Homo sapiens: one gene and its partners. The protein of the gene in region 2 interacts with the protein of the main gene of each other region in a pairwise test. Each region holds a gene or a part of one and is shown on either strand. Other genes may lie near its edges. The genes, in order: PRKCG, SAMD3, DBH and SETX.

Region 1 (7,023 bases), on a different chromosome or scaffold from region 2:
GGGTCTCTATCACTCTGTCTTCCTGTCAACTGATCTCTGTCTCCCTGCCATCCCCCATCTTCTCCCCTCCCTCTCCATCTGTGTCTCTCTTTGGGTTTCTGCCTCTTCTGAGACTCTCTCTTCTCTCTCTCATCTCTGTCTAACTCTAAAGTTGGGGGCTTCAATGGAGACTAATTATACAGTGGTCTGGCTGTCTCTCCGTTTCTGTATCTCCATCCCACTCCCTCAATCACTCTATTCCCTTTTCCCACCATCTTCTTCTGCCCTTTTCTGGGTTCCCTCTATCCTAACCCCTCCCATCAGCTGCTCTCTGGGGGCCACTAGGACCCTCAGATCATTCTCTGTCAGCTGTCATTGCCTTCCCTGCACCCCAGACTCACAACACAAAGGTCTCATTCCACACAGGGTTTAGCGTGGCTTTCACCGTTCGGGTCTTCTGTTTCGTCAGGTTCCGAGGGTCTGGGATGAGCTTCAGTTTCACATAGGGATCAGAGAGACCATTGGGGTCCATAGGAATTAGGTTACGGGCCTCGCCAACTAAACGGGGAGTGAGGAAGAGTGTGACGGGTTAGAGATCCAGGAAGGGGCTCCCAGCCCTCCTCCAGTCAGCAATCAAGAGTTCCAAGCTTGGCCAGGCACGGCGGCTCATGCCTGTAATCCCAGCACTTTGGGAGGCCAAGGCGGGCGGATCACAAGGTCAGGAGATCGAGACCATCCTGTGAATGGTGAAACCCCGTCTCCACTAAAAATACAAAAAAAAAAAAAAATTAGCTGGGCGTGGTGGCAGGTGTCTGTGGTCCCAGCTACTCAGGAGGCTGAGGCGGGAGAATGACGTGAACCCAGGAGTCGGAGCTTGCAGTGAGCCGAGATTACGCCACTGCACTCCAGCCTGGGCGTCACAGCGAGACTCCGTCTCAAAAAAAAAAAAAAAAGAATTCCAAGCTCTCAGTCTCGTTTCTCATGACTTCTTACCTCTCCAGAACCCAGAAGACAGGGCATAGAGCCCTTTCCGCAACCAGTGACCCTGAAATCAGATCCAGAGCCCTTCTCTCCATTAGGAACCAGAGTTTGGACCCTGGCCATGTCACCAGTACTGAACCACAGCCTCCCTCAGAACCAGGTACTCTCCCTTCTCAAGATCCTTATACCCAGAAAGCCATTGCCGGGCACGGTCCTCACCCCTGTAATCCCAGCACTTTGGGAGGCGGAGGCGGGCGGATCACCTGAGGTCAGGAGTTCCAGACCAGCCTGGCTAGCATGGTGAAACCCTGTCTCTACTAAAAATACAAAAATGAGCTGGGTGCAGTGTCATGCACCTGTAGTCCCAGCTACTCAGGAGGCTGAAGCAGGAGAATCGCTTGAACCTGAGAGGCGGAGGTTGCAGTGAGCTGAGATCATGCTACTGCACTCCAGCCTGGGCAACAGAGCGAGATCTTGTCTCAAAAAAAAAAAAAAAAAAAAATTAGCCGGATGTGGTGGCAGGCGCCTGTAATTCCAGCTACTCGGGAGGCTGAGGCAGGAGAATCCCTTGAACCCCGGAGGCAGAGATTGCAGTGAGCCAAGATTGCACCACTGCACTCCAGCCTGGGTGACAGAGCAAGACTCCATCTCAAAAAAATAAACATAAAATAAAAACAAAAAAGAAAGCCATTGGCCAGGCGCGGTGGCTCACGCCTGTTAATCCCAGCACTTTGGGAGGCCGAGTCGAGGGGATCACCTGGGGTCAGGAGTTCGAGACCAGCCTGGCTAACATGGTGAAACCCCGTTTGTACTAAAAATACAAAAAATTAGCCGGGCTTGGTGACACGCGCCTGTAATCCCAGCTACTCGGGAGGCTGAGGCAGGAGAATCACTTGAACCCGGGAGGCGGAAGTTGCAGTGAGCCGAGATCGCGCCATTGCACTCCAGCTTGAGCAACAAGAGCGAAACTCCGTCCCAAAAAAAAAAAGAAAGTCAAAGTCATTAACAGGTGCAGAAAGTTGCAAGAAGCCAGGTTGGAGGCGGGGCTTCGAGCCAAAAGGGGTATGGCTGGGTGTGCTCGGCCTTTGGGGTGGGGTCAGGAGTGTGGGCGTGACCATAGAAAGAGGCGTGGCCCCATCTTTGGGGTAGGGCTGGGCCAGCACAAGTGCCTTGGGTCAGCCCCGCCTCACACTTGGGGAGGGGGCGGGGCCAGGCGAGGGGGCGGGGCCTCACCAGTTACGTGGATCTCATCTGCTGTGGGAGCCCGGATCTCCAGCTGCAGGCGCCCGCGGCGCTCGGTGTGGTCCACACCGCACAGGGAGGGCACGCTACGCACACAGCGCCGGTGCACGTTCATCTCGCAGCCTGGAGGGGAAAGCTGCGGGTAGCACCTCAGGCCCCGCCCCCAAGCCAAGACTCCACCCCCCACCCCATCCCGGGCATTTCCCGGAACCCAGACCGGGCGCTTTGGAAGGGCCCTGGCAAGGCCCAGGTCACTCACAGGAGCATTTCATGCCCTGGTGCACAAGCCCGTAGAGGAGGGAGCCACAGTGGTCGCAGAAGGTGGGGCTGCTGTAGCTATGCAGGCGGAACTTGTGTTTGTTCCGGGGGTCCTGGGGGCAGAGAAGACTGGCTTAGGGGGCGTTGGGAGGGTCCTAAAACCCCAGGGGAGGGGCCCTTTTATCTTTTCCTCCTGCCTTGCTCTCTAGGTCAGCCTGAGGCTCCATCTCTTTCACTCTATGTACCAATAATCATTGAGCACCTGCTGTGTGCCAGGGACTGTTCTTGGTGTGGGGACCCAGCATTAAACAAATGAAAAAAAAAAACCTCTTTGTCACATGGAGTTTACTTCCTAATGGAGGGATACAGAATGTAAACATGGTAAATAAATAAAACATATAGTTTGATGGTTGGTAATGGGTGCTCTGGAGAAAAAATGAGGCAGGGATGGGGACCACCAGAAGTTGGGGGATTGAAATTTTAAATACGGTGGTCCTGGCTGGGTGCGGTGGCTCATGCCTGTAATCCCAGCACTTTGGGAGGCCGAGGTGGGCGGATTGCCTTGAGCTCAGGAGTTCCGGACCAGGCTAGGCAACATGGCAAAACTCTGTCTCTACTAAAAATACAAAAATTAGCCGGACATGGTGGTGCATGCCTGTAATCCCAGCTACTCAGGAGGCTGAGGCATGAGAATTGCTTGAATCCAGGAGGCCGAGGTTGCAGTGAGCCAAGATTGTGCCACTGCACTCCAGCCTGGATGACAGAGCAAGATTCTGTCTCAAACAACAACAACAACAACAAAACTGTGTGCAGGGGGAGTGGCAGGGGGGCCTCGCTGACCAAATGATATCTGGGCAGAACATGAAGGAGGCAGGAGCTTCCAACCTCCCATAGTTCCCATCCCCCCAACTCCCACAAGTTATTATTTGAGGACTTGTGGGCCACCCTGAACCCCAGCTCCTTCACTGGCAGCTTCTGTCAGTGTCCATATGGTATGCCTTCTCTGAGCTCCAGGTGGAATGGAGAACATGACCTCTCAGTTATAATAGGAACCCAGGAGGCCTAAATAAAATAATTGGTGTACAAAACATAGCTGTGCCTACCACGTTAGATGCTCCCAATACTATTACTGTGGTTATTGTTAGGGATTTTATTGAAGTCCCTACATAGCCCTGAATGTAAGTAAGAGCTAGGCCGCTTCTCAGCTGTGTGATTTGGGGCAAGTTCATTCCCAGTTTTGAGCCTCAGCATCCTCCTCTGTCAAGTGGAAATAAATAATCTATATTTTGAAGCAATGCTAAATTTCCAGAGTCCATTAAGCAAGAATGCAGGTCATCAGTGAAGCTTCTCCTTCTCCCCTGCCACCCACTACCCCCGGGACAATATCTGCTTGTTAAATAACTTGATTCTAAGAATCCATTAAAAGGATTATCACAGGGTGAACATTTAGGCCATTCTTGGATTTTCATCTATGTTAGTGGGGTTTCTAGTTTGAATATATATTTGGGTAGAGGAGGGTGTTGGCAGTTTCCAGGATCCTTTTCAATGTGCTGGGCTTCTAAATATCTCCGCTGACCCTAACTCAAAGGGTTCCTGCCGCACTAAATAAGATGCTGTGTGTGAAGGTTCTCAGCAGGCTGCCTGACACACAAACCATCCACAGACAGAGGCTGCTGTTCTTATTCTCAAAAGTGAACGTCGCTGTTAAAAAGGAGACAGCACGGAGGCTGTGGTTACATACATCAGAGTTCAAATCTTGCCTCTATCCCCTACCCAGCTAGGTGGCCTCACCACGCCTGCCCCTTTTCAAAGCCTCAGATTTACCGCTTGAAAAGTGGGGGCATGTGCCCTCCCTGGGGACTAAATGAAATCATTCTTGCCAAATCTTGATCCATGTTACTTTTTTTTTTTTTTTTTTTTTGAGATGGAGTCTCACTCTGTCGCCCAGGCTAGAGTGCAGTGGTGTGATCTCGGCTCACTGCAACCTCTGCCTCCGGGGTTCAAGCGATACTCCTGCCTCAGCCTCCCGAGTAGCTGGGACTACAGGCGCGTGCCACCGTGCCTGGCTAATTTTTTGTATTTTTAGTAGAGACGGGGTTTCACCGCGTTAGCCAGGATGGTTTGGATCTCCTGACCTCGTGATCCGCTTGCCTCAGCCTCCCAAAGAGCTGGGATTACAGGCATGAGCCACCATGCCTGGTCAAGGCATGTTACCTTTTTTTTTTTTTTTTTTTTTTTTTTTTTTTTTTTTTTGAGACAGAGTTTTGTTCTTGCTGCCCAGGCTGGAGTGCAATGGCGCAATCTTGGCTCACTGCAACCTCCGCCTCCTGGGTTCAAGTGATTCTCCTGCCTCAGCCTCCTGAGTAGCTGGGATTACAGGCGTGTGCCACCACGCCCAGCTAATTTTGTATTCTTAGTAGACACGTGGCTTCTCCATGTTGGTCAGGCTGGTCTCGAACTCCCAACCTCAGGTGATCCACCCGCCTCGGTCTCCCAAAGTGTTGGGATTACAGGCGTGAGCCACTGTGCCTGGCCTGCATGTTACTTTTAAGAAGATCAACTGCCAGCAGTGAATCACTTGAGCCCCGGAGGTCAAGACTGCAGTGAGCAGTGATAGCACTATTGCACTCCAGCCTGGGCAACAGAGTGAGACCCTGTCTCAACAGCAAAAAAAAACAAAAACAAAAAAACCCCCGAGTGATGCAGAGGAAAGATCTCCTTCTCACTATTCACTCGTTTCCTCATTGGTCATAATAATAATTTTAACAAGAATAAAAAATAATATTTTGGCTCTTGCTATGTGTCAGAAACCATCCCAAATGTCTGACTCACTAAATCTTCAAAACAATCCATAGTGAGCATAATTATCATCTCCACTTTACAAACAAGGAATTCAACAAGTGCAGAGAGGTAAATTAACTCAGGAAATGTCACAGAACCAAAAAGTGGTGGAGCTGGGATTCAAACCAGATAGACAGGGAAAAATAACCAAATAAGCTGTTGTGTGGATCCAACCTATACTGTATACAAAATACTTGAGGCCAGGTGCAGTGGCTCACGCCTGTAATCCCATCATTTTGGGAGGCTGAGGCAGGAGAATCGAGTGAGACCAGGAGTTGAAGACCAGCCTGGGCAATATAGTGAGTGAGACTCCATCTCTACAAAAACATTTTTTTTTAATTAGCTAGGTGTTGTGGCTTGTGCCTATAGTCCCAGCTACTTGAGAAGCTGGGGCAGGAGGAGCACTTGAGCCTGGAGAATTCAAGGCTGCAGTGAGCTATGATCCCATCACTGTACTCCAGTCTAGGTGACAGAGTGGGACCCTGTCTCAAAAAACCCCAAAAATCGGCTGGGTGCGGTGGCTCACGCCTGTAATCCCAGCACTTTGGGAGGCCGAGGTGGGTGGATCACGTGAGGTCAGGAGCAAGACCAGCTTGGCCAGCATGATGAAACCCTGTCTACTAAAAATATAAAAATTAGCCGGCCATGGTGGCTCATGCCTGTTCTAGTCCCAGCTACTCGGGAGGCTGAGGCATGAGAATCGCTTGAACCTGGGAGGTAGAGGTTGCAGTGAACCAAGATTGCACCAGTGCACTCCAGCCTGGGTGACAGAGTGAAACTCCATCTAAAAAATACCCCAAAATCAAACAAAACAACAAAAACAAAAAAAAATCTTTTTTTTTTTTTCCAAGACAAAGTCTTGCTCTGTCACCCAGGCTGGAGTGCAGTGGCGTGATCTTGGCTCACTGCAACCTCTGCCGCTCAGGTTCAAGCAATTCTGCCTCAGCCTCCCGAGTAGCTGGGATTACAGGCAAAAAACAAAAAAAAAAATCTTGATGAGTGTACCCAATGAGCACTGGATGCATCAGACTTATCTGGTGTTGGTGGCGGAGGTGAGTGGACGAGGGGGGTCATCAATCACATACACGTGCTGGTAGACAGTGGTGCTCAATATATGTTCTATGAAGTCACATCTTCTATGTAGACTTCTGTTATTTTCAGCTGAGAGGGTGGTAAAACGCCTCATGGACTTCTGTGGATCTCTCTCTCTCTGCCTCTCTCTCCATCTGTACATCATAAAACTGTCTCCGATCTTGTGTCAAACCCTGGGCGAAACTCTGAACCCACCTGACTTCAAAACAAGCCTGGAAGTGTCCAGATGTGTGCTGTCCCATTTGGTGGCCACTAACTACATGTGGCTGTTTAAATTTAAGTCAGTTCTGCCGGGCGCGGTGGCTCACGCCTGTAATCCCAACACTTTGGGAGGCCGAGGCGGGTGGATCACAAGGTCAGGAGTTCGAGACCAGCCTGGCCAACATGGTGAAACCCCATCTCTACTAAAAATACAAAAAAAATTAGCGGGGTGTGGTGGCATGCGCCTGTAGTCCCAGCTACTCAGGAGGCTGAGGTAGAAGAATTGCTTGAACCTGGGAAACGGAAGTTGCATTGAGCTGAGACTGCGCCACTGCACTCCAGCTTGGGCAACAGAGCGCGACTCCGTCTCAAAAAATAAAAATAAAAAAAAAAAATTTAAGCCAATTCAAATGACACGAAATGGAATTT
Region 2 (7,049 bases):
TCCAATAAATTTGAAGGAAAAAGTGGTGAGCACAGTCATAGTAACTTAAATTTCATATGTTTACATTTTTTTCTTTTTCTATTTTTTTGAGATGGAGTCTCGCTCTGTCATCCAGACTGGAGTGCAGTGGCACTATCTCGGCTCATTGCAACCTCCACCTCCCGGATTCAAGCCATTCTTTTGCCTCAGCCTCCTGAGTAGCTGGGATTACAGACGCGTGCCACCATGCCAGGCTAATTTTTGTATATTTAGTGGAAATGGGGTTTCACCATGTTGGCCAGGTTGGTCTCGAACTGCTGAGCTTGTGATCCACCTGCCTCGGCCCCCCAGAGTGCTGGGATTACAGGTGTGAGCCACTAGCCTGGCCAATTTTTACATTTTCAAAGAAACTAAAGAGCCACTTATCTGGGAGGTTTAGTTAAATTAATGAACAAAAATAGCAATGAGCCAGAGTCCCAGAACTTTGGAACTTTTGAGTCACAAACACCCTAGTGTTTTGGCCTTTGAGTCAAACTTATGGTTTATCCCTGCTTCTGCCTCGTTGACAGCCAAAGCTTATGGTTCAGCAACACAGATTACAGTCCTGCCAGAGATGGTAACTGTGAACTGTGCTATTGAATTTTATGAAAAGCTGGATGTGTGACTGAGAAGTCTTGATAGTTTGAAGATGTCATTTCCCTCAGAATTAATTTATAAATTCCAATTAATATACATACGTGGTTATATGTTTTACTTACTATGAGGCTAGTTTTCATGTGGAAGAATAAATAGGTAAAAAGAACGAAAAATGCTTGACAAAAGGACTTGCACTTCCAGATGTTAAAAAATGTTATGCTATTAACAGCATGGTACTGGAGGAAAAGAGAACAGATATTGAAACAGAATAGAAACTTAGAAACAGAAACATTCATATGGAAGTACTGAAAATATCTTTTTTTTTTTTTGACAGTCTCGCTCTGTTGCCCAGGCTGGAGTGCAGTGGCACGATCTCGGCTCACTGCAAGCTCCGCCTCCCGGGTTCATGCCATTCTCCTGCCTCAACCTCCCGAGTAGCTGGGACTACGGGTGCCCACCACCACGCCCAGCTAATTTTTTTGTGTTTTTAGTAGAGACGGGGTTTCACTGTGTTAGCCAGGATGGTCTCGATCTCCTGACCTTGTGATCTGCCCACCTTGGCCTCCCAAAGTGCTGGGATTACAGGCATGAGCCACCACGCCCAGCCAGTGAAAAGATCTTTAAAATTGGTGACAAAGAAGGGATTAGTCAATATATTTTGTTGGGATAATGCCTCATAACACCTACACAATAAATTCCTCAGATAAGTTAAATATGTAAATATGAAAAATTAAAAAGAGTTTAAAATAATCTAAGATTACATAATAAAAATAAAATATTGATAGATTTGACTAAAAAGGAAAAACGCATGTGTACACATATATATCACAGTGGACCCTTGAACGACACAGGGGTTGGGACGCTGACTCTGCTATGCAGTTGAAAATTTGCAAGTAACTTTTGACTACCCCCAAACTTAACTACTAATAGCCTACTATTGATCAGAATCTTAACTGATAACATAGACAATTAACACATATTTTGTATGTTATATATATTATATACAGTACTGTTACAATAAAATGAGTTAGAGGAAAGAAAATGTTATTAAGCAAATAACAAGGAAGAGAAAACATTTACTATTTATTACATGGAAGTGGATCATCATAAAGATCTTCATACTCGTCGTCTTGCAGTGAGTAGGCTGAGGAGGAGGAGGAGGAAGAGGAGAGTTGGTCTTGCTGTCTCAGGGGTGGCAGAGGCAGAAGAAAATCTGCATGTAAGTGGACCTGAGAGGTTCCAACACATGTTGTTCAAGGGTCAACTCTATAATCCATAAAACCAACTAAAAAATTAATACACCAATAGAAAAAAATAGGAATAGGTAACTCTTGAACAAAATTTTAAACCAGTATCTGAAAAATCTACATTATTTGTAATAAAAATAATTAAATACCATCTTCATTTATTCCATTGGAAAAGGTGAAAATTAGCAAGAATGCAAGGTCAGTTGTTCTCTTACACACTGCTAAGGGGAGTATAAAGTGGCACAACTTGCCCTGTCATATTATTCCCATTTTATAATTGAAAGTCCTGGAGTTTACAGGGTAACTCGCCTAAGGTTCCTTTGCTTGTAAAGGTAAAAGTGATTTGAATCCAATCTATCCAACTTTAAAGGGTACTAATGCAAGCCAAAAACATTAAAAATATTTCTACATTCTGACCCCAAAATAGCATTTCTAAGAATGTGCCTAAAGACATTAACAGAAATGAACACAAAGATGTGTGCCATAGCAATGGTCCGAATAGCAAATAAATTGGACAGATAAAATTTCCAGCAATAGGAATTGGCCAATGAATTACAGTAATTTATATTTAAAATAAAATACTATGTAGTAATCAAAAATTGTATCTAGACAAATAACTATGTAGAGAGAAACAGTCATGGATATGGTTAACTGCAAATAAATTTAAAATAGTATGATTCAGATTTGTGGAAAGAATAAAATAAAAGTAGAATGAAATGCTTGGTTACACAAAGGCTGGGAAAGCATATACTAGAAGGCAGAAGTGGCAATCTCTGTTTGGAGGAATTAATGTTTTTTGTTTGTAATCTGCCACTCTTAAATTTTTCTCAATGAAAGAATTTTATCTTAATATCAGAAAAGTTAGAGTTTTATAGAGAAAAGGTAAAAAGTGATATTTACGGATTATTGCTGGAGAGGCTTTTGGTCCATCTCTTCCAGAAGAGAAGATCAAAGGAGAGAGCACCCCTCCTCCCCAGGCAAATCCGATCAGTGGATGTGGTTCTGGTTCCTTTGTTTTATCTGAAAAATGGAAGATATCACCTACAAATCTGGAATCTTGGTTTCTCTTGAAAAATCAAAAGTTCTGGTGATACTGGGTTCATATTTCTGAATGGCAGCAACTGAGCAGTGGCTGCCCCATTGAAAGACAGCAAGACTGGGAGCCTCACAGTACACAGGAAGCATAAGGTAAGTTTGAAACAGGGTGGATCTCAGACAGCTAACGTTTGCACCTCTCAAAGGAAGAAGATTCTGACAAGTGTGACAAATACCCATGTATGTACATACATGTTTACCATAATATATCTTTGGAACATTTAATTCTTCCTTAGTTACCTTTTTTAAGCTCCTAGAAGAAATAACACTAACTAGAAAAAAAATTTCCTATATCAATCTTAAGGCAGATATAATAATAATGTATTAGAATTTAGACATTGAATTCAAAGTCAAGGACTCAAAGCTTTGCATCTCAGAAGGTTCTAGTGTCTTGAGGCTTCATTTTCTTTGTAGCTACATCATTGAACTAAAATGCACAAACCTTTATTTAGCAGACATTGGCTGAATGTAATTCTCGTTACATAGCTCAGTGTGTACGTGATAGTGCAGGTGATAGCTGAACATTTTATAGCTCTGAGTAGTGGCAAGAACTTACATTATTAAAATATTACAACTATTTTTTTGGAGTTACTCATTTGTTAGAACACATGAAAGGTGACTTCTGTATCCACCTATATTGCTCAGCTGGTAGAGTCAAGCTGGGCTCTCTTGATCTGTTAACACTAAGTGCTGGTCTGACTTTGTAGGCCTCTTCAGGAAGAAGGGGATGCAAGGTAGTGGATCTTCTTAATGCAGTGTGACTCAAAGTGAAACTTGGAAACACCCTTGCAGGGCGTGCGATGGGTGTGACTCGCTTCTTCAGTACCCTGCAGCTCAAACCCCTAGAGGGAGCATGCAGACGGGCAGGTCATGGGGAGCATGGGCTCCTACCCCATGGCAGCACCTAGGGTTGAGTGTTTACAGCTCCAGAAGCCCCAGTGGGAGTGTGTTACAGTGCAGTCTTTCAGCTTAGCCATCCGCAGGTGGCTTGTGTTAATCAGCTCAATTAGATCCTCTGCCTTATCGCAAGGACAGAGGGCTTTCTGTATCCCAAGGTTCTTGCCTTAATGTACCAGAAAAATTGAATCACATGTAGGCTTGGAGAATGGGTGCACAGTTTTATTGACTGGTGGAAGTAGCTCTCAGCAGATGGATGGGATCCACAAGGGGAATGGAATGGGAAGGCGGTCTTCCCCTGGAGTCAGGCCGCTCAGTGGCCTGACTCTCCTCCAACCACCCCCAGGCAAATTCTACGTGGTCCACATCATACTGCTGTTGATGTCCTGCCAGTCTGTCAGTGTATTCTGCCAGTGTGTTCCTCTTGATGTCCAGCCGCTTGTGTCTGTGCCCGCTAGGGTCTCAGGGTTTTTATAGGCAGAGGATGGGGGTGTGGCGGGCCAGAGTGCTTTTGGAAAATGCAACATTTGGGCGTGAAAACAGGAGTGCCTGTTCTCACTTACGTCCATGGGTACAGGCCTGAGGGTGGAGCCCTAGCCAGGGACCCCATTCTTCTCTACCCAGCACTTCCCTGCCCGCCTCCCGTATCAAAAGCAAAGCACAGATGGGAGGTGTGGAGACACAAAAAGGCATAGGACCCTGTGTTTCTCATGAGTGACAAATGCTCATGCTTCTGCCAGCCCTAGGTTCATGTGAGGACGGGCCAGAATGTTCAAACTTTTGTTTATGCAAAAGCACTCTATTTATTTATTATTATTATTATTATTATTATTATTATTATTATTATTTTTGAGATGGAGTCTCCCTTTGTCACCCAGGCTGGAGTGTAATGGCACGATCTCAGCTCACTGCAACTTCCACCTCCTGGGTTTAAGCGATTCTCCTGCCTCAGCCTCCTGAGTATCTGGGACTACAGGCACGTGCCACCACGCCCAGCTAAGTTTTTGTATTTTTAGTAGAGATGGGGTTTCACTGTGTTAGCCAGGATGATCTCGATCTCCTGACCTCATGAACCGCCTGCCTCGGCCTCCTAAAGTGCTGAGATTACAGGCATGAGTCACCACGCCCAGCCCGAAGCACTCTTTTTAGAGTTGGCCCAAAAGGTAAAATTCATACCAATTGGTAGGCTATAGTCCATCATTAAATATGAGTCTGTGTGTCTGAATTTGTGTGTATGTGTGTGTGTTAGAGAGAGATAAAGAGAGACAGACAGAGACAGAGAGCAGTACTGAGCAAGAGAGTGAGTGAGCATGGGGAAGAAAGTAAGGAGGAGAGGAAAAGGTTATGTGAATGATTAACAAGTAAAAAATAATGTTACTGAAACACCAGGGGTTCAGTTTAGGTCCTGCTATTTGCTGCACAGAAAGCCAACGACTGAGACAACAAGTATTGCCAAGGAAGAAGGCTTTAATCAGGTGCTGCAGTCCAGGAAATGGGAGCTCAGTCTCAAATCCATCTTCCTGATCAACTAAAATTAGAGGTTTATATAGCGGGGAAGAAATGTTAAATATGTATGGGAAAACAAGAATGTGGAAGGAGTAAGGGAGCAATTACAATGAATGAGAGGCTGGTATCTCATTGTCTGGATCTGGTGAGTTTCAAGCTTTAAAACCAGAAGGATTAATTTCTATATTTAAGAAAAACTGTCTATGGGACTACTGGATCAGTTTCAGTAAGATAGGCATATTAGAAATAAAGACTGTAAGGATTATAATAGCACATAGCTTTCCTCTTTAGATTGTTCCAAGGTAAACTTATTTTTAAAAATCCTTACATTCCAATCTTAACTGCTGCCTACTCACTTCTACCATTCTTTGATTACATATGGGAACAAATGTGGCACACCAATATAAAGGTGAGAGTAGTTGGAAGAAGAGGAAAAATATTTATTCATATATTAGGTCATCCAAAAAGCTTAAGATATGAGAAAATTCAGTATTTCTATAACCAGGCCAAAAACTAACTTGTCATTTCAAACTCCTTGGCATTTGGAAGCTTGAAAAATGCTTGCCTGGGCACCTATTCCTGGTAAAGTGCTAAGGAGAGACGCCTAAGGAAATTGAGGGGTCAGCCTGATGTTGGCTTAATCCTGGCTCCATTGTCTTCTGATCACATCACCCTTCTTATCTAATTGATGTGATCACTTGTTGAGTTATCTCATCCAGTTATTCTCTTCCTGGTACAGTCTTCTATCCACTGTTGCAGAAGTATCTGCAGTAATTCAGGACAGCGCCGCTTTTCCCAGGAAGGGGTATTAGTGAAGCTGTCATTCTACCTTTCTGGAGAGCCTGATGGGCAGACTGGAGCTTGAGGTGTTATTGAAGGGTGCAGAGGTTGCTGCTGATCCCCTGTGTTTCTCTCTGTTGAACTCAGAATTCAGAATTTTATTTTTAAGAATGATTTTCCAACTTACCTAATATAAGAACAAGGGGTGTACTTCATGAAAATATTGATTCCTAAGCCCTTTCTTAGAAGATTCTGATTCAGGTGGGTAGAGTGAGTTCTTATAGTATTTCTAATCATTACCATTGATTCTTATGATCAGCCAAGTTTGAGGAGCAATTGAAAGATTTATTATGATTTATTTCCAATGTACAGAGCCCTATAGGTCAAAGTTAGCACACCATCCCCAAATGTCATTATGCACAAATTATACCTTTGAGAAATGTGTATAACACTTTATAAAAATAATTATGAGGGGCCGGGCACCATGGCTCACGCCTGTAATCCCAGCACTTTGGGAGGCCAAGGCGGGTGCATCACCTGAGGTCAGGAGTTCAAGACCAGCCTGGTCAACATGGTGAAACCCCGTCTCTACTAAAAATAAGCTGGGCATGGTGGCAGGCGCCTGTAATCCCAGCTACTGTCAGTGTAGCTTTTCTGTAGGCAGGAGAATCGCTTGAACCTGGGAAGCGGAGGTTGCAGTGAGCCGAGATCATGCCATTGCACTCCAGCCTGGGCGATAAGAGCGAAACTCTGTCTCAAAAAAAAAAATTATTTACATCACTGAAATTAAATTAGTAACATTGTGTTTACAAGGATTTTTCATAAAGCTAAGGATGTACAATAAATACAGTAATCTGATATTTTTTACATTTAAATAAATTGTGCAAAAATATACATAATGTAAAGTTT
Region 3 (7,023 bases), on a different chromosome or scaffold from region 2:
ATGCCCCCGGATGCATGGTGGACATGGTGGACATGGCGGACATGGCGGGGTGGTCTGGAGGGGCTGTGCAGCAGGAGGCTCTGCCCCCTGGGTTATGTACAGGAAAGGGATGTCAGGCGGCAAGGAGTGTGAAATTGACAAGGGGTTTTAATTCACAGGGAAGAGGCTTCTGATGAAGTTTAAGTAAAAAAACAAACAACAATGAAAAAAAAAGATATAAAATTCTAGTCACAAGAAAAAAATTAATGGGCCAGAAAAGCAGTCAGGACAGACACATAGCTGGGTGACCAGTGCTCACTTCAAAACTTGGAGCCGGGAGCTGGGGGGTGGTTTCATCTTCTTCATGCTTTTCTGCTGTCCATCTTCTCACCAGTGTACATGCATTGCCCTTTCTGATCAAACCAAGAGGGTGGTACAGATACTAACATCTTCCCTGGGTGCCAAAAATGCTCTAAGCATAACCTACCCCTTTCATGGAAGTTTTGCACAGTGAGAATCATCAGCCCTATTTCACAGATTAAGAAACTGAGGATGGAGCCTGAACTGAAGACTCCACACAAGACCACAGGGCTGGGAAGTGGCCAAGCTGAGGTTCAAACCCAGGGCTGTGGACTGGGGTGCAGGGCACTTCCAGGGGGCCCAACCATCTCCCTACTTGTTTCCTTTAAGATGAGGCCAAAACAACTCCTCTTGCCTCTGCCTTCTTCCCTCGACACCCCTACACCATCCAAACTCAAACGGCTCCTGTATCTCCAGGCTGATTACATCAGAGGATAATAATAAAAAGGGTGTTGCAATTGGTTAAAATTCAGATGGGGATTAAATCATGAAATAATTGTGGGATTTTGATATTTATAGAAAAGCAGCCCATCTCAAGATGGGTGAAGTGACAGGAGCGTCCTTATATTTGGCAAAGGATCCATAAATACAACCAGATAATCATGAAGAGACAGACTTCCCTGATGCTTCAGGAGTTTTCAAAAATCCATTTGCTTTCAGGGTTTAAATGAGCAATAAATCCCGTGTCATGCTAAGGCCCAAGCTGACTTATACCCTTCTCTGTGCATGTGGAGATAACTCCAACAGTGGCGGAAGGTATTACTTATGCAGCCAGGAAAAAAAAAAAAAACCACAGGCGACTGTTAGCTGAGCACAGCCCCGTGCCCACAGCAAGTTCTGTGCGTGAGCCTTTCCCAGCTTCACAATAGCTGTGGGAGGTGGGAGAACAGGCAGCGGGTGAGGTCATCCACCCAGCGTCCCCAAGGTGGTGAGGCACAGCCTAGCACCTATCTCTTAGGCCACTTCTGCACCTTGCACAAATGAAAAGAAGAAGCACCATTCAGAGAGAGAGAAAAAGTGTGTGCATGTGTGTGCTTCTGCGTGCATATGTGTACATGTGTGCATGTGTGTGTGCGTGTGTGTGTGCATTGTGTGCGTGTGTGTCTATATATGGTGAAAGATGCTGGTGCAACAGAGAGAGGGAAGTATTTTTTTCAGTTTCTGAGACAGCATCACCTGGCCTTGCCATGCTAAAAGCTGACCCTGCTCACTCCACCCTCAGGTATGGGTGATCCAACAGCAGCTGCCCCAGCTCCCCTTCCCGTCCCTGCACTCTGGCCAGGCCGGAGCGCCTGTGTCCTGGAATATGCCCTGCTTTACTACCACCTCCCTGTTTATGCACACACCTCTCCCTGTATTTGGAACTTGGCATCTGGCAGCTTCCCTTATGAAAATTCTCCTTGTCCTTTCCCCTGGGATGCACAGTGCTGCGCCGATGGCAGCCCGTATTATAGGGACGAGGAGGGAGGTGTGGGGCCACTGCTGGGCCCTGGCGAAGCTGTGAGGAGTGAGCCCCTCGAGGTCCTGTCCCTGGGAGCCCACCACAGCCATGGAAGATGGACAGCGGATGAGGCAGACGCAAGGGCCTCGTGCCAAGAGGAGCTGTACAGCGGGGGCACCATGCTGGGCAGACGAAGGGCGGGATTTGCTCACTGGCTCAACACAGCTGAGTCCTAGGGCTTCTGAGGAGGATGGCAGCAGAGCCGCCTACCTTCTATCACCAGTGGGTTGTGGTAGTGAACTTCCAGGCGGAGATATCTGGAGGACCCTGGACCCCCGAAGGCAAGGCCGGCTTCCTCTGGGTAGTAAAATGCCTGTGTGGGGCAAGGTGTCAGACAGACGGGTGTGTCCTGAGAGGGCCCCAGGTCTGGGCAGGGGCAAACCCAGTCAACTGTTGGGGCCTGAGCCTCAGGGGTGGTGGAGGGGGCGCAGCAGGATTAGAGCGATGCTTCCTCCTGACAGGCAGCTCATTACACGCCCCAGGAACATCCTGTGAGACTCGGGTCAGGGAGTTGGGGAGAGGAGCTGGTGCCTAGGGCTGAGCCTTCCCCCAAAACCCCTTCTCTAGACGGGTGTAAGAGCTGGGGAGACCCCCATCGTCTCAGCCTGTGGAGGCCTCAACACTGGCCCCACCGCCAGCCAGCCCTGGGACCACCTGTACACAAAACCCTGACTCCAGTTGGGAAACAGAATCAGGACCCACTGAGGGCATAAGGTCCTGCGGCACTTGCGTTTCTGTGGAAAATAAAAAAAAGGCTTGAAGCATTTCAGACATCACAGAGGCGAGGGGGCCACCTCAGGCCTGGCCCTTCTGGTGGCCTCGTGAGCCCCCTTGGGAGCCCCTTCTTGAAGCCTCTGAGACGGTGAAGCTGGGGAAACAGAGGTGTGGGGATGCCAGGGGCCCAGGCAGGAGACACCATGCTGGGGTCGCAGGGCACGCACCTTGGCACCCAGGGCCCAGGCGGCCAGCACGTGGCGGCAGTAGTTGAGGCGGTCGGGTTTCATCTTGGAGTCGCAGGGCCCGCTGAAGTGGGGGACGCTGTCCATCTCGGGGGCGCACTGGAAGACTTCCATGTGGTGGACAAGGGCCTCATTGCCCTTGGTGACGATGGGCTCGTACTGTGAGGAGGCAGCCCTCTGAGCCCGGGAACCGGCCGCCCACCCTCCCCTCCCCAGCAGCCCTCCTCCATGGGCTTCCGAATGCCCATCTGTAAAATGGGAGGGATGATCCAGACAATTTCAGGGGCACTTCTGGGGTTCACAGCCTTGAGGGTGGAGCCATCAGCCCAGAAAGAAATCCCGTAGGCAGCTCCAGAGTGAAGGAAATGAGGTTCGTACAGGCCAAGGCAGGGACAGGACGCAGCCGTCCTCATGCATATGGGGCTGTGGCCGGGCCAGCTCCTGCAGCCCCAGTGGGAGGCAGGGCAGCCCTGAGGTTAGAGCCCGGGCCCAAAGCGCACCTTCAAGGCCATGCCTCTTCCTGCTGTGTGACTCTGGACACTCACATAACCTCTCTGAGTGCACCTTCAAGGACATGCCCCTTCTTGCTATGTGACCCTGGACACTCAACCTCCCTGGGCCACACTTCCTCTGCTGGAAACTAGGGGCTCTTATGATGAAGGAGGGATCACCTCGCCCCTCCCCCGGGACTAGTGGCATAGTGGACACTCGACAGCTATCGCCTTTGCTATTCTGTCTTCCCCGGACGGGTGTTCGAGAGCAAGTGAGTTCTGACTCGAGCTGCTTTTTCATGAAGGGGGAGGTGGCCTGGCAGACAGACAGCAGTTCCAGTCCCAAGGAAAGATGCAGAAGTCAAGATGTTGGTCACTTTGGTCCAGGCAGGGAAGTGGGAGCTCCAAGGCCCTTTGAGGGTAGGGGAGTGAGCAGAGTGATGGGGAAGCCAAGACCACTTGCTGCTCCCCTGCTCAGGCAGGTGCCTGAGGTTCCAGTGATAAGAGGACACCTGGTCCAACCAGGACTGTGGACAGCTCTCCAGGGTCAGGGACAACCCAGGCCCGGGAGGAAGGCAGGGCTGGGCGAGGACCTCGGCCCTGGACCCGCACGTACCTTGATAATGTGGTGCCGAGAGAAGCCCTTTGGAAGCTCCTTAATGTAGCACCAGTACGTGGTCTCCTGGCTGGGGATCTGGATATTGGGAGCTTGGACCTCCATGGTGCACGCGTCTGAGGGCAACTCCGGTTCGGGGATATTGGGCTTCAGGAGCTGCACCCTCTGCAGCCCCATCTGCAGGCCCGAGCCGTTGATGGCCTCCAGTGACCGGAACGGCTCCTCCAGGATCCCGTAGACCAAGTGGACAGTGCCGTCCTGCAGCCGAGACAGGGTTCAGCTGGTCGCCCTCTCAGAGCCCCCAGAGTTGGGCTCCTGAGAGGATGCCACATCCCTGCCCACCCACACCTACCAGGTGACACACCTCACTCTCATCTCTGTGAATAAGGGACCCTTGAGGCTTGCATGGCCCTGGCTGGGGCCAAATCCCGGGCTGACGACCCCCAGGATCCCCTATTTGCACCGGCCATCAAATACTTTTCTCTTCTAAACACATTCCACCTACATTCACTTAACATCCATTCAACCAGTGACTACTGGGCCCGCCGTGAGCCAGTGTGGCCGGAACATTTGTTCCCTCCACCAACCCCAAGGTCACTGGGGACTGGGTGTGGGGGATCATTGGTCAGTTCAGCAGCCCAGCCTGAGGATTCAGTGCCCTCTATGAAGGGAAGGAAACACCCTGGGGCTTGCTGATGGTCACGCTGAGCTGCGGAGCCACGCTATATTATGTAGTCACCACCAGCTTGGCAGGAGGGGACCAAGCAGCCACAGAAAGCTCCATGGATCTACGCGGTGCTGGAGGCCACAGGCAGACTCAGGAGGCAAGCTGTGGGGCTGGCTTCCTCACATGCTGTCATGAATGGAAACGGGGATCGGGTGTGGAAAGTGCCTTTCATAGCTTTCTGGGCACTCCACAGTGCAGACCCGTGTGGGTGGCTAATTTGCTCTTTGAGTTTGCGGAAAGCCGATGGGCCGCCCTGTGCAGGGGACGCCCAGAACTCCAGGCAAAGGCCCCTATACCTGGCCTGGGGCCACTGGGCTGAGCACACACAGGCATTGGCCTCCCCCTGTGAGGTGCTTCCAGAGGGTTCTCTGCTCACCCTTGCCTCGTCCACTGGGAAGCAGGGTAAGGGCTCAACAACCTCCTGGAAGAACACCTCTTCTGGCACCAGGTCTGCCCCAGCACACCCCGAACCCCTGGGTACATCCACTCCCCGTCTCCGGGCCTTAGTTTCCTCATCTGGCAAACAGCCAGCTGTTCTGTTTTCTTAGATTCCGTATTTGTCTATTTGGCATCTATTAATGGATTGCAGGCTCAAACAGATGGCCAGAGTTGTTTACACCTGCCCTTCCCTCCAACATTCACGCTTGTGTGAGAATCATATTCCCAACCCTCCAACCCGTCCCAAGCCCATATCCTTAGCCACCTCCTCCACCTGACTGTCACACACCAGGCCAATATTGCCTCAGCCCTAAATCACCCTAGGGCCAGGAACCAGGCAACTAGAGACCACCCCGGCCACCCAGAGCCCACCAGAATTGTCCAAATGAAGCAACTTCCCTGCCCTGCCTGGCCTTTCCCATGGAAACCCCAAGAAAGCCTCAGGCCTGGGCTCTCCCCTAGCTCCTGCATCTGCCTCCTGACCAAACCCAGGGCTCTGCAGGTGGCCCTGCACGGCACAGGTGCCCCTTCTCTCCGGAAATGCAATCAATCTTTCGATGGCACTGGCCTCCCGTGTGGTCACTCAGCTACACCCATGATTAAGACCTGGCACTAACGGCCAGCCCAGGCCACTGCCACACCAAAGGATTACTTACACAAGACAAAAGCTGTCAGGTGTGCTAGAGTTAAAAGAGTTTTGTCTTCAAGGGCAAGGTGGGTTGCTTTCCCTAAGAGGTTGGGGGGCTCTTAGAGCAGCATAAGAAGCCTATGGCTTTTACAATGTTTTATGGCTCCCATGAACTCCCAGAGTTGGTCAGGCCATACAGATCATCTAGTTCCCATCTCCATTTTACAGATGGGCAAAGTGAGGTCCAGAGGAGGGGGGCAGTTGTCCCGAGCCTCACAGCGAGCTGGCAACAGGGCCGGGATGGAAAGCCAGGTCGCCTGGGCTCCAGAATCCCACCTGATGGTTAACAGGACCAGGAGGAGAGAGACATCCAGAAGCAAGGTCTAGTCCAATGGGAGAGGCTTCAGCACAAGCCCCGCATCTAGAAACCATGTCAGCTACGTGTTGGCAAAGAGCTGCGTCTTTGAGGGCTCAGGGGCAATAGCAGAGCTGGACCATCCTAAGTGCTTTGGCCCCACCACTGCCTCTGGCCATCCTCCTTGGCTTTCTCTCTGTCATAGCTGGCCAGGCCCAGGCCCCAGACTTATCAGGGACAGGAAAGGTACTATGACATTGGCACAGGATGGCAGCATGATACACGCAGCCCACGCCCTCCTGGGTACTCGCGGCCACCCCTTACTTCAATGAGGTAATCCTTGGGGTCGCAGGTGCCAAAGGGCCTCTTGAAAAGCAGGGTCAGGCCTTCTGGGGTCCTCTGCACCTGCAGCAGCTGGTAGTCCTGCTGGGGATCCAGGTGGATCTGCCCCTTCTGGTCACTCCAGGCGTCCTGCAGAGACAAGCACTGGGCTCCAGGCATGAAGGAGCCAAGCCGGGCCAATCCACAGGGGAAGAGGGCATTCCCCGGCAGAGCTCCGCATTCATTGCCAGCTGATCTGGGGATGCTGGGCCTCAGTCCCTGTGGATCTGAGGGTTCTGCCTGGGGCTGTGGCTTCACTCACACCTTCTATCTCCATTTCTGCCTGGAGACAGTGGAGATGAGCCCCGACAGTGGAGTTGGTTCCTCCTCTGCAGCCAGGAACCAGGGCTGTCACTTGCCAGCAGGTCACAGGTTCTGTTAGCCATGGGCATTCCCGGGCCTGGCGGGCGGGACACTGAGCTTCTTAAGAAGATGCCTGAGGCTCCCAAGGCCTCCTCAAGACTGGGAACAATGCCTCAGACCAATGCTGCCCACATTCATGCAGGCAGGAGAGTTGCGGAGCCTCAGAAAGGGGAGAGTTGGGAACAGGGTGGGACATGAACAGGAAAGGAGAGAGAAACCAGGGTG
Region 4 (7,938 bases), on a different chromosome or scaffold from region 2:
TGTAATTTTCTACAGACTTATCCTTAGGCTATCCATTTCTCAACATTAACTAGCCAGAAACTTCAAATAACAATCTCTTTCTTCTACACTTCTCAGCTAAACATCTGGAAGTTTAGATTCACTACCTCCCAGCTCTTCAGCTCCTTTGCACTCTGGCTTCTACCCTTACACTCCACTGAATGTGAAGTCCCTAACAATCTTTACATTACCAATCCAATAGGTTCCTGACCTGACTCTGCTAAAGCATATGAAAATGCTGCCCATCCTTTCCTTACCTACAACACACCATTTTTTGGACACCACTTCTACCCAATCACCTTCATAATTACCCCTGCCTTTGTTACTCATATAAATGCTAAAGTTTTCGAAGGCTTGTCCTGAGAATTCTCACCTCTTCATTCAGTACTCTTTCTGGGCGGCCTACTTCAAACCACTGCTTCAACTACTGCCTAGATTGAAGCTGCCCAGACTGAGAATGTATTGTAAAACTTAATGCAGGCAGGGCGCAGTGGCTCACACCTGTAATTCCAGCACTCTGGGAGGCCGAGGCGTGAGGGATCACGAGGTCAAGAGATCAAGACCATCCTGGCCAACATGGTGAAACCCCGTATCTACTAAAAATATAAAAATTAGCTGGGCATGGTGGTATGCACCTGTAGTCGCAGCTACTGGGGAGGTTGAGTGAAATGATGCACTGTTCCACCTACTCAATAACTGACAGCCTAGCCTAGAACTCCAGATATATTCAATATCCAACTGCATACAGTGTATCTCTACTCACATATCTGACAGGCACCTCAAAGTAAACATGACCAGAACCCAACGAAGTCCTTCCCTTAAATCTGTTATTTGTTCTATATTCCCTTGTTGATGACATTACCATACATTCAATTTTCAAACCAGTAACCTAGGAATTATCCTATACGCTCCTTCTCCCTCAGCCGCAATCTCTGAGCTCCAGAGCCTACCCCTTAATTACATCTCTACTTTCTTCTCAGTGCAACCGCCACTGCCTTAGTTCAGTACATTTTCATCATTTGCCTGGATTACTGAAGAAGCCTAAATGATCTATTTCTTCTTTGATCGCCATCAATTCCTCCTCCAAAATGCTGCCAGAGGCCAAAGCCCCAAACTGGACTTCGAAAGCACAAATGACTCCTCCTCCAATGTTGGGATAAAATTCAAATTGCTGAGCTCAACACACACAAGGCCCGCGATGATCCAGCTTCCACATCATCTCTTTCCTCCACACTTACCTCCCTTGACTTGCTCTTCCTAAAACCATTCATGGTGACTGGTATTCCCTGCCTTTATGGAAGCTCTTCCACTGGCCTTGGAAACCCACCCTCCTACCTCTGCCCGGTACTTAACTGTGAATACACATCAGACTTACCTCAGGAACTTAAAAAAAAAAGTAGAAAAGATCCTATGGATAAAATTGTTTCCCTTTTAAAGAACTCCACTAAGATTCGAAGAGAAAGCTGGATTTGAGAACAACCAGTGTGCAAGCTCTTCCTGAGTGTCATCACGTCTGGGGGGGGGGCCTGTCCGACCCGTCCTCTCTTCCAGTCTATCTCTGATGACCTTCTTCTCTGTCCCTTTAGGACTCTGCACATGTTTCCATCATTGCACTTACCTTGGTGCTCTGAACTCCTGCTAAAAAAAAAAATTATTACCTGGACAAATGGCCTACAGAAAAGTGATCGTCTCAGCTGGGCTTAGTTGTGAACAAACACGGATTTGCATTCATATATGCCCAGACTCTGGCCCCAAAAGAACATTTCTGAAATTAAAAAACAAAAAACGAAATTGGTAAGTGGCATTTATACTCTATATCCCATCTGAGCCTGGTATCGATCCTATTACAGACAGATACTGCTGGCTGATGAGGAAGCCCAGATAGGTTAGACAACTTGGCTGTGGACTTCCAGGAAACAGCAGAACTGCAATTCTGACTCCCAGTTCCACAAGGGGCTGTCCCCACTCACGGGGACAGCTAGGCACCGAGCCAAAAATCCCCCAAGTTATTAGCCCGCGCAGGTAACATCAATCCTAGGATCCTCAGCTGTGTCACTTATCAAATACCACACTCGGCCTTCTCCTTGTGGAGCTCTTTTCCCTCAAGGCAGTCACCCCCGTTTCACTTGGGTCGTGCAAATTGCTGGGCACATCCTTAGATCCCCAGAAGTTGGGGAGGACGGACAAAGTCCTGTGGCCAGCAGCAAAAGCTCCAGCCCCTCCAAGTGGGAGAAACAGACTCTCCTCCAAACGAAGGGACCGGCCGGGCGCGGCGGCTCGGAGGATCCCTGGAGCAGCTGAGCTCAGCCTGGGAAACACAGCCAGGCCCTGTCTCTGCAACACATTTTGTTTTTAATTAGCCGGGCGTGGTGACGCGCGCCTATGGTCCCAGTTACTCGGGGGGATGAGGCGGAAGGATCGCTGGAGCCCAGGAAGACGAGGTTGCTGCGAGCCGTGACTGTTCCACTGCACTTCAGCCTGGGTGACAGAGCGAGACCCCGTCTCAAAAAAAAAAAAAAAAGAAAAAAGAAAAAAAAACAAAGGGAGGGACTCCAGGCGAGAGGCAGACGAGCGTGTGGAGGGAACCGACACTTTCCACCCCGAGACCTCCCGCTCAGCCCCAAGGAAACTACGCAGTATCCACACCAAAAACAGCTCACACGAGACCGCAGTGTAGACAACGGAAGGACAGGGGGTCGCAGCGGCCGGGTCCAGCGCGCAGGAAGGCAACAGGCGGCCGCCAGCCGTCGAGGGGTGCTCCCGCCCCCGCACCGAGGGAAGCGGCCGAGCCCGCGCCGACTCTTCCCCCATCCGCCCACCGGGACCTAGGCGCCGCGATGGTTCCCCGAAGCGGCCCTGCAAGCACAAGCCGCGCCTGCGCTCACGCCCGCCCGACCTACGGCCTCCAGCCCGCCGCTACCCTCACCGCTCTCTGGCTGGCGTCGGCCTCTAGCCCACCTCCATACCGGGCCCCGCTCTAGGCCACCAGCGGAAGTGCGGGCCCGCAGCCGCAGCTACCAACCAGCTGTTGCCGCGAGGTAGGCCCCGCCCCCGCGCTGAGTCGGCCGGCCGCAGGCCCCGCCCCGGCCGCTGCTTTCTGGTTTTGGTGCCCCCCAGGGGGCGGGGCATGGGAAGAGCGGCCGCGGTGCACCGCCCACGCCGGGCGCTGGCGTCACGTCCGGGCAGCTGGGGCCCGACCAATCCCGAGTCCCCGTCAGGGTGGACGGGGAGAGTTTGCCGCGGAACCTTGACCTCGGCCCCGCCCGGGGCTTCCTGCGGGTGGGGCGGCTCCGGGATGAGCTCTGCTGCGGGTGGGGTCAGCCCTTACCCGCTGGCCATTTCCGTTCCCTCTTTTTTCTTCTTTTTTCCACGCCTCAGGTGTCTCAGCGGATGTACTACGGTGACGAAGTAATTTTTCTCTTTAGATTTCCTTTAAAGACCTGAAATGTAAATTACATAAACGTGTAATTTCGGAGGAATATGTGTATATCCTTTATATTACAAGAAAGGGAGACCTTAGGTCTTGCGAACAATGCGCGCGATGCGCAACACAGCAGAGTAAATCCCTCGCTGGTGCGGTGGCTCCCGCTTCTAATCCCACCACTTTGGGAGGCCCAGGCGGGAGGCTCGCTTGAGCCCGGAGTTCAGAGACCAGCCTGTGCAACATAGCGAGACACCCGTATGTACAAAAAAAAATTAAAACTCAGCCACCGAGGCCGGGCGCGGTGGCTCACGCCTGTAATCCCAGCACTTTGGGAGGCCGAGGCGGGTGGATCACCTGAGGTCAGGAGTTCGAGACCAGCCTGACCAACATGGTGAAACTCCGTCTCTACTAAAAATAAAAAGATTACCTGGGCGTGGTGGCGGGTGCCTGTAATCCCAGCTACTCAGGAGGCTGAGGCATGAGAATGGCTTGAACCCGGGAGGCAGAGGTTGCAGTGAGCCGAGATCGCACCACTGCACTCCAGCCTGGGCAAAGGAGCGAGACTCTCTCTCCGGAAAAAAAAAAAAAAAAAAAAAAATTAGCACCTGTGGGCCCAGCTTGTTGGGAGGCTGAGGCAGGGGGTGGATATCCATTGAGACCGGGAGATCGAGACTGCAGTGAGCCGTGACTGTGCCACTACACTCCAGGCTGGGGAACAAAGCAAGACCCTGTCTCAGAAAAGTCTATAAATAAATAAAAATGAGTAAAATCCACTGGAAAGCCTATCCCCCCCCTTTTTTGTTTTTGAGATGGAGTCGCGCTCTGTCACCCAAGCTGAAGTGCAGTGGCGCAGTCTCGGCTCACTGCAACCTCCGCCTCCTGGGTTCAAATGATTCTCCTGCATCAGCCTCCCGAGTAGCTGGGAGTACAGGCGTGTGCCACACGCCCGGCTAATGTTCATGTTTTTAGTAGAGATGGGGTTTCACCATGTTGGCCAGGATGGTCTCAAACTCCAACCTCAAGTGATCCGCCCCGCCTCGACCTCCCAAAGTGCTGGGATTACAAGCGTGATCCACCGCACCCGGCCCCTACCCCCTTTTAGTAACGCCTACTACTGACCACGATGATGCAGCGTCACCGTCTTACAGTTAATAGAGGAGACAGGGAAATTAAACAATTAGTAGTGGTGACTCAGGCGATAAAAAAAGAGGCTGAGATGGGCCAGCTTGGGAAAAGTGGGTCAGATACAGCCTTACCGAGGAGAACCCTGGCCCGAGGATGAGGAGCAAGCCCAGGGGAACACTGCGGGAAAGGCCCAAGGCGAAGGAAGATTCTAGCAAGGGGGCGTGGCTTGTTGGAAGGGCGTGGTGGCCGTTATGCAAATTTAACCGTCTAAGGAGCAGCACGCGTTGACCGTTATTTTCCTCTTTTCTACTTCTTCATCCTGTCAAATATTTTGAACATATTTTGTTTTATCATATAACACTAATATACCAACACAGCCTTTATACCACCACAGTCATAAAATATAATTTTTTTTTTTTTTTGAGACGAGTCTCGCTCTGTCGCCCAGGCTGGAGTGCAGGGGCGCCATCTCGGCTCACTGCAAGCTCCGCCTCCCGGGTTCACGCCATTCTCCTGTCTCAGCCTCCCGAGTAGCTGGGACTACAGCCACGTGCCACCACGCCTGGCTAATTTTTTGTATTTTTAGTAGAGACAGGGTTTCACCGTGTTAGCCAGGATGGTCTCGATCTCCTGACCTCGTGATCCGCCCGCCTCTGCCTCCCAAAGTGCTGGGATTACAGGCTTGAGCCACCGCACCCGGCCATAAAATATAATTTTTATCATTTTTTTTAATGGAGAAAAGTGCCATGAAGGTAACTTGTGCCCAGAGCCCACAAAAGTCATAATTTCCTCCTGTCCCTGAAGCCCTCTGTAGGCCTTATCATCTTCCCACATTTTTTGTCTGTGAACAACATATAAATTTTACATGCTTTTTAACTCTGTATATGGAATTATGGAGGATGTATTTTTCTGCAAATTGCTTTTTACACTCAATGTTATGTCCTGAGACTCATTGATTCAAGGTGCATTCAGGAATTGTTGAGCCCAAAACTTACACAACCTATAGAATGTTAAACAGAAGCACTGCAATAGACTTTGTAAATATAAAATTAGAAATGAAAATTAATACTTATTTGGAATGAATAAATAAGTACAAATTACAAACTTCTAAAGCTGATAAAACCATAAACATGGCCAGGCGCAATGGCTCAGGCCTGTAATCCCAGCACTTTGGGAAGCTGAGGTGGGCAGATCACCTGAGGTCAGGAGTTCAAGACCAGCCTAGCCAACATGGTGAAACCCGGTCTCTACTAAAAATACAAAAATTAGCCAGGCTTAGTGGTGCATGCCCGTAGTTCCAGCTACTTGGGAGGCTGAGACAGGAGAATGGCTTGAACCCGAGAGGCGAGGCGACAGAGTGAGACCTCATCTCCAAAAATAAATAAATAAATAAATAAATAAATAAATAAATAAATAAATAAATAAATAAAAAGACTGGGAAGTATGAGGCCTCCAGTATCGTTCTTTTTCAAAATTGTTTTAGCTACTTAAGGTCCCTTGCTATTCCATGTGAATATTTAGAATTGGCTTGTCCCGTTTCTGCAAATAAATAAGTACAAGCAGTTGGAATTTTTATAGGGATTGAATTGTATTTTTAGATACATCTGGGGAATCAATTGACACCTTAACAATATTAAGTATAGCAGGTTCTCTAATAAGATCATTTTGTTCAATGTGGTTTTGTTATAACATTGATGAGAAAAAAAAAATCCATTCCTGCTCAAGGCTTTTTTTTGAGACGGAATCTCCCTCTGTAGCCCAGGCTCTGGAGTGCAGTGATGCGATCTTGGCTCACTGCAAGCTCCGCCTCCCAGGTTTCGGTTCAAGCAATTCTCCTGCCTCAGCCTCCTGAGTAGCTGGGATTATAGGCACGCACCACCACGCCCAGCTAATTTTTGTATTTTTAGTAGACACGGAGTTTCAGCATGTTGCCCAGGCTGGTCTTGAACTCCTGACCTCGTGATCCGCCTGCCTCAGCCTCCCAAAGTGCTGGGATTACAGGTGTGAGCCACCGTGCCTGGCCCCGAGGCCACTTTGTGTGTGGAGTTTGCCCCTTCTCCCCATGTCTGTGTGGGTTTCCTCCAGGTACTCCAATTTCCTTCCCGATTCCAAAGATGTGCCAGTTAGGTTGATTGGCATGTCTACATTGTCCTAGCCTGAGTGAGCATGGGTGTGTGTGTGAGTGTATACCCTGCAAAGGGATGGCATCTTGTCCAGAGTTGGCACCCACCTGGCACCAGGAAAGATTCTGGCCATCCGCGATCCTGAACTGGAATGAGTGGGTAGATTATTACCTTGTTAATCTTATTAATAAAGATTAGTCTTTTATTAATCTTTCTTGAATGTATAGCCTACATTTATTTCAATGTTTAATATTAGAAGTGTTTTGTGTGTTTACTTAGAAGTTTGGTCAGAATAACTGGCTTTTATGAGACAAGTCAGAACTTGTGGCTCAGAAGACAAACCCCACACACATTCAAGTGGATGAAAACAAGCCCCCTACAAGGGCTCTATCCTCCTCCTCCTCCTAGTTGTTCTTTAGTTTCAGAACCTGTTTGATGTGTTTTTTTAATCCTATATATATTTTACGGTTGTGACTTATCCATTGTTTGATTTTTGTACAAGAAAATCTTTGCTATAGAAATCAGTATACTATTTTTATCTGGAGAGAAGATATTATGGCAACTTAAACTGTGGTCAGATGTTAGAGAAAAATGTATAAATGCCTTCTTGCCATGCTATCAGTCATATTACATTCATTTTATATTGACTGACAATATCAAAAGTTTCTTTTTTTGTTTGTGTAAACTCTAATTTCTATCAAGGTGTAATGAATATTTAAAGTTGGTTTTTCATTACAAATCTCTCAGTGTTGGTTAACTGATTTTTGCCAGGACCATTATGCATTAAGCAAACAAATTCCACAGCCATTTGGGGGTAAAAGAGTAGGTTACTGATTTGAGATATTTCTTCTTTTTTAATGTAGGTGTCTACAGCTATAATTTGTCCTTGGAACACTGCTTTTGCTACATCCCATAGATTTTGGTATGTTGTATTTTTGTGTTCATTTGTCTCAAAGTATTTTATTTTATCTATTTATTTATTTTTGAGACAGAATCATTCTCTGTTGCCCTGGGTGAAGTGCAGTGGCATGATCACAGCTCACTATAGCCTTGATATCCAGGGCTCAAGCGATCCTCCTACCTCAGCATCCCAAGTAGCTGGGACTATAGGCAAATGCCACCATGCCTGGCTGATTTTTTCTTTTTTTTTTAGTAGAGACAAGGTCTTGCTATGTTGCCCAAGCTGGCCTCGAACTCCTGAGCTCAAGCAGTTCTCCCACCTCGGCTTACCAAAGTGCTGGGATTACA

What was found.
Region 1: the proteins of SAMD3 (region 2) and PRKCG interact in binary tests that used the Homo sapiens proteins (3 or more experiments, as listed by UniProt).
Region 3: the proteins of SAMD3 (region 2) and DBH interact in binary tests that used the Homo sapiens proteins (3 or more experiments, as listed by UniProt).
Region 4: the proteins of SAMD3 (region 2) and SETX interact in binary tests that used the Homo sapiens proteins (3 or more experiments, as listed by UniProt).

The regions. Positions count from the first base shown.
Region 1 is NC_000019.10:53,885,188-53,892,210, reverse strand, and holds part of PRKCG (protein kinase C gamma type), read right to left. Parts: intron 2,574-7,023; coding exon 2,462-2,573; intron 2,326-2,461; coding exon 2,194-2,325; intron 538-2,193; coding exon 381-537; intron 1-380. UniProt on the Homo sapiens protein: Calcium-activated, phospholipid- and diacylglycerol (DAG)-dependent serine/threonine-protein kinase that plays diverse roles in neuronal cells and eye tissues, such as regulation of the neuronal receptors GRIA4/GLUR4 and GRIN1/NMDAR1, modulation of receptors and neuronal functions related to sensitivity to opiates, pain and alcohol, mediation of synaptic function and cell survival after ischemia, and inhibition of gap junction activity after oxidative stress.
Region 2 is NC_000006.12:130,219,932-130,226,980, forward strand, and holds the start of SAMD3 (sterile alpha motif domain-containing protein 3), read right to left. Parts: upstream 3,021-7,049; 5' UTR 2,763-3,020; intron 1-2,762.
Region 3 is NC_000009.12:133,639,348-133,646,370, reverse strand, and holds part of DBH (dopamine beta-hydroxylase precursor), read right to left. Parts: intron 6,526-7,023; coding exon 6,379-6,525; intron 4,165-6,378; coding exon 3,907-4,164; intron 2,959-3,906; coding exon 2,782-2,958; intron 2,154-2,781; coding exon 2,051-2,153; intron 1-2,050. UniProt on the Homo sapiens protein: Catalyzes the hydroxylation of dopamine to noradrenaline (also known as norepinephrine), and is thus vital for regulation of these neurotransmitters.
Region 4 is NC_000009.12:132,351,973-132,359,910, forward strand, and holds the start of SETX (probable helicase senataxin), read right to left. Parts: upstream 3,015-7,938; 5' UTR 2,945-3,014; exon of another isoform or gene 2,665-2,944; intron 1,784-2,664; 5' UTR 1,677-1,783; intron 1-1,676. UniProt on the Homo sapiens protein: Probable RNA/DNA helicase involved in diverse aspects of RNA metabolism and genomic integrity.